2 separate regions of the Homo sapiens genome follow, and region 2 is linked to region 1. A link means that fine-mapping ties the variant in region 1 to the expression of a gene that starts in the linked region. Tissue or cell type: whole blood. Region 1 holds a variant in brackets; the other region holds the start of a gene. All regions are shown on one strand. Distances are between the middles of the regions.

Region 1 (2,852 bases):
TTGTTTTGGTATTATTAGTACTTACTTCCTTTGGTCAGTAAATTTTCTTAAAGTGTCAGTTTCCATAACGTAATTGCAGTGGTTAAGCAGCTAAGAGTTATCACTACAACCCTAGTCGGAAAAACCAAATACCTCAAAATTACCCGTACAGCACTAAGGCAGAAGAGGACATTGGGAACCACACAACGCGGAGGTCAGCTGCCAGGGATCCCGGCGGTTAGCACCGCGGCTGGTTTTGAGAGCCAAGGCTCCAGCGCTCCCGGCGGATAGCATCGCACGCGGTTTTTTTCAGTGAAAGTTTCAAAAACTCAAGGTTCACAAAAGTGGGACTTCTGTCCCGGGGTGGGAACGAACCACCAACCTTTCGTTTAACAGCCGAAGGCGCTAACCGATCGCGCTACAGAAACGGGCGTTGGCGACCTGGGCTGCCAAGTCACTTCACTGAAGAAAAAATGCTCAGCACTCTTACGTCTCCAAAAAATTTGAAGTTGATTTGAAACCAGTGACACAATTAGCTTTCCGTGCTTCAGGGCGCGGCTCACAGCCCTGAGCGAGGCAGGTCTTTTTTCCGCGCTAGCACTTGCCTAGATCTGGAGCAGGACTCAGCTTCCAGCAGAAGAGGCTGAGAAAGGGAGAGCAGAAGAGGATGCAGGAACGAAGGGTCTTCGGGGAATCCAAAATGGATGCTCTCTGTGATTTCGGGGGTTCCGTTGATTTTGGTCAGAGAAATACGACGATAAGCTTTTTTTGCTGATGTAGACAACTTATGTATGCATGTGCACACGTTTAGTGCTGACTCATAAAAAGGTTATTGTCGTGAGCATTAAAAATATTTTCTTTCAGGTCCAATCACGTCCAGCAAAATGTGATATCTAAGTAAGTGAGTTTTGTGTTACAAAATTAGTCTTCAACCCACGCTGTTTTGAAAGGTTTCTACGGGCATATTAGCCATGCAGACAGAACACGGAGCTTAAAAAGCCTGTAACATTCCAATTAATGGTATTCAGCTTGGAAATAAAAAATATTTTTTAAAAAATGCCTGCAACTTAAGGACTTTCATGCTGACATATCCAGATCCAAATGTCTGAGGACAGAGACCCCTAATTCCACCACCATCGACCTAGGGAATCTCGTCAGTGCTGGGTCTAAAAAGCCTTTTTTTTCTTTAATTCATATATATATACTTCAAGTTCTAGGCTACATGTGCACAAGGTGCAGGTTTGTTACATATGTATACATGTGCCATGTTGGTGTGCTGCACCCATTAACTCGTCATTTACATTAGGTGTTTTTCCTAATGTTATCCCTCCCCCCTTCCCCACCCACGACAGGTCCCGGTGTGTGATGTTCCCCACCCGTGCACACGTAAGTTTATTGCGGAAATATTCACAATAGCAAAGACTTGGAACCAACCCAAATGTCCATCAATGATAGACTGGAGTAAGAAAATGTGGCACATATACACTATAGAATACTATGCAGCCATAAAAAAGGATGAGTTCATGTCCTTTGTAGGGACATA[G/A]ATGAAGCTGGAAACCATCAGTCTAAACAAACTTTCGCAAGGACAGAAAATCAAACACCGCATGTTCTCACTCATAGGTGGGAATTGAGCAATAAGAACACTTGGACAAAAGCCATTTTCTATACTGCCCAAGACCCAGGGCCTCTCCATAGCCTCCACACAGAATCTCCTTTCTTTCTGCCCTGCCATCCTCTGTCATCAGTGGGCTCCAGTTTAGTTGCAGGTGGAAGTTTTCAATGATGTTTAGTGAAATGAGAAGACATGCAAACATAGATATGCATATGCAGAAATTATATATGCATATATGTTTATGTGTACACATATTTTATATCTTATGTAAAATACATATATGTGTATCATATGTATACTAAATAAGTAAATAAATAAATTTGCCAAATGATCTTTAAACTAGAGTCATTTATTTTTTTTTAATTAATTTTTTTTTTTGAGATGGAGTCTTGCTCTGTTGCCCAGGCTGGAGTGCAGTGGTGCGATTTCGGCTCACTGCAACCTCCACCTCCCACATTCAAGCAATTCTCCTGCCTCAGCCTCCTGAGTAGCTGAGAAGATTACAGTCATGGGCCACCATGCCCGGCTAATTTTTGTGTTTTTTTTTTTTTTTTTGAGACAGAGTCTCGCTGTCGCCCAGGTTGGAATGCAGTGGCGCGATCTCGGCTCACTGCAGGCTCCGCCCCGCAAGGTTCACGCCATTCTCCTGCCTCAGCCTCCCGAGTAGCTGGGACTATAGGCGCCTGCCACCTCGCCCAGCTAATTTTTTTGTATTTTTAGCAGAGATGGGCTTTCGCTATATTGGCCAGGCTGGTCTCAAACTCCTGACCACAGGTGATCCTCCCGCCTCAGACTCCCAAAGTGCTGGGATTACAGGCAAGAGCCACCGTACCAGGCCTAGAGTCATTTCTTTTATTTTAAATTTTTGTCTCTGTTCTTTTGCTCAGACCTGTGGAGCTGGCAATATGGGCAAGTGTCATGGACTGTCTACCTCCAGGAAGCTCCATTGTCACCGACAGGATCAGAAGTGGCATGGTAAATGGTACAAGAAAGCCCATTCGGGCACAGTCCTGAAGACCAGCCCTTTTGGAGGTGCTTCTCATGCAAAGGGAATTGGGCTGGAAAAAGTAGGGATTGGAGCCAAATAGCCCAGCTCTGCCACTGAGAAGTGTGCCAGGGCCAAGCTGATCATCCAGCATAAGCTAGATGCTGTGGTCTCCACTGGCACAGCTGATCCTCTTGTTACAGGTTGGAGGCTGTGAGGCAGATGAGAGAACAGCAAGAAAATCACAGCCTTTGTACCTGATGATGATTGCTTGAA
Region 2 (2,676 bases), 100 kb before region 1:
GTCACTTAGGGGGTTGGAGTGGAAGCTGTAGAAAATTGGGATGAGAAATTTATAAGACTCACCAGCTTGCCCACTGCTTGGAACTGCAGAACAGGAAAGAAGGAAGAGGAAGGAGAAGGAGAATATTGGCGATGAGAGGAGAGAGACTCTTGACGACAAGAAAGGCTGAATGGTCCCAAAACCTGTTTTTCTTCTTCTGCCCCTGGTTTCCCAAGCTCTGAGAAAGCCCCTTCTTCTTCACCCCTCCAAAAAAAGATAATGAACCACTTGGAAACTGAGGATTGGATACCCACCCTCCTCTCCCCATACCTTGGTCCACCCTATTCTCCACCACCCAAAGCTCTTCTGCTGCCTCACTGTGGACTCACCCAGGAGCAGAAGGGCTGTCAGTGGCCACATGATGGATCTGACTGCAGCAGCTGCAGAAGGATGGAGATGCACTGGCATGAGATGGGGAACAGAGAGAAAGAATGTGGCCAGTGGATGCCACTGAGTACTAGGAGACATTGCTGCTTCTCCCACCCACTCCTAGTTCCTGAAGATAGCAGACCAGAACCAGTGGGAGACAGGCTGAATATCAGGTATCCCAAGTGCCAGGCACTGTCTCATCTACCGCATCTACAGCCACCTCACAGCTCAGGCCAGCCCTGACTACTGAAAGGAAGGCCTGCAGAACTTGTGCCCTCCACAGCACAAGAGAGCCCCATAGAACCCCAGGCTCCAGCAGATGACCCCGCCATCTTCAGGCTCCCATTGACATCCCACTCCCATCCCATCCCTTCTCCACCTTCCAGCCAGCCCTGCAAGGCTCAGCTGAGGAAGACACGGCCTCATGTCCTTAAGGACCTTTTTCCTGCTCACTCCTGATGACAGACATTGGCATGAGACCTAGAGAGGTCAGTGTTCGGTTGCCTGCCCCCAGAGCTCACATCCTGCCACAATGAGTAGACGAAAAGGCATGACTCACCAACCACCCTTCACATCCCTATCATCTAGTTCCCCAGTCAAGGATAGAAATGCAATGTGTTTCTTCTTCCTCCCTTCCTGAAATCTTGAGTTCTCATAAATTCTTAAATTCTTAAGAAGTTAGAAAACTCTTCTTTCCTACCCATCCCAATGAGCTCATCCTGTGGCACTTCCAATCACTTGTTCTTTTCTTCCTTCCTCCCACCCTTCCCTGCAACCCCTCCCCAGCCACGCCCCAGTTCCAGAACTCCTGACCTGCAGCAGAGAAGTCACTGCATCGGCCCCTCAGAAGCCTCTCAGATCTGACCTCGGGGCTCTACTTCTTGTGCTTTCTGAGCCATGTGACCGTACCTGAGCAATGAGGAGAACCTGAATTTTCATGTAAATACTTAATGAATTTTCCAGCCTGATAGTGTGTCTCCTTGGACTCTATCCTGTCCTTACCTGTGGTTGTTTAGAACCGGGGCACCTTGATCCCTTGGAAATCTGATGGGAAGGAGATCAATTATCAGGTACTGTCAACTCCCAGGAAGATAGTATCTTCCCCTCTTGCTGATGCCTGAAGTTCCACTCTGAGAGTCCCCTCATATTTTGCTTAATGGACTAGCCCCTTTTAAAAATGCAAATGCCTCTTAGGAAAATGTGACTGGTCATTTAAATTATGCTGGTCACTTCAGATCATGTTTTGAGTGCAGGTTTTGATAAAAGAGATAGAGTCCTGTAGATTTCAAACAAAGTAGGGACATATTTGACAATGTGCCCAAGAGTAGGGGAGGCAGAGAAGAACTAATTACTGGGAACAGGGATGATCACCTGCCTGCTTTAGGAGTGCCTGGGCTGACCAGCACTCTTGTGCTTCCCCTCCATCCTAATAATTCCTCGTCTCAGGGCCAGTGTGTGGCTTCCCACATGATCCACAGCCTGCCACAGAGGTCTGACTTCTGCACCAAGCCACCACCTCAATGGTAAGAATGCAATGCAGTTGTCAGCTGTCCTCTTAGGCAACACAAGCTGGCTCTATTTTGGCTTCTCATCCCCCAGAGCACAGATCTCAGCCCCTTTACTCGATTCAGAAGAAACCTTAGTACACCAAAACTTTGTGAACTGTATAGTCGTCCCTAGAAACCTCTGGAACCATCCATACTGTTCATATTATACAGTGCTCAGAATTTGACTTGAAAAATTTCCCACGAAATATTTATTTATTCTAGGCTCTCCTCTAAGTTTTTCCCAAAGTGAGTCTTTTTACTCCATCTAGGACTTTTCCCCAGAATTTCTAATTCTTCACTCCTTTACAATGCAGAAAAATTTAGAAATTATCATTTGTAACTTGAGCAATTATTTGAGGCCTATCACAACATAACATCTGGACAATATATGTCACCATTTGATAAGCATTCTGGTGATAAAGTGTTCTCAGTGATAATTACAGTAATGAACTAATGCTGTTGTTGCTGATGACAGCTCACTTTAGTGTCTCGGCATGTGGCAGGCACTATGCTAAGTGCTTCACAGATATTACTGCACTTAATTCTTGTAAGGCCCTTTGAGGAAGAATTATTAATATCCCAATTTTGCATATGAGGAAACTGAGATGATGAAACTGGGATTTGAATAGAAGTCTGTCTCCAAAATCTGTTCTCTTATCTCTCTGATTGTCAGGGATTCAAGATGCTGCTCATGGCCGGCTGTCATTATTGGTCTTTGCAA

The links. PIP is the estimated chance that this variant, and not a neighbour inherited with it, causes the effect. A credible set is the group of variants that fine-mapping cannot tell apart.
Region 2: it holds the start of FCRLB, and the variant in region 1 is the best candidate, but not a certain one, in a credible set for the expression of FCRLB in whole blood (INTERVAL, PIP 0.87).

The regions. Positions count from the first base shown.
Region 1 is chr1:161,619,230-161,622,081 of GRCh38, reverse strand. It overlaps the pseudogene RPS23P9. Among named protein-coding and RNA genes, the nearest start is that of TRL-CAA6-1, 8.6 kb to the right of the region's middle. The variant G/A (reference allele first, on the strand shown) is at 1,523.
Region 2 is chr1:161,720,396-161,723,071 of GRCh38, reverse strand. FCRLB (Fc receptor like B) reads right to left here and starts at 1,528. Exons shown (of 8, transcript NM_001002901.4): 1 at 1,411-1,528; 2 at 1,222-1,317; 3 at 369-419; 4 at 63-83. The coding sequence starts at 399. RefSeq lists enhancers at 467-566, 647-746.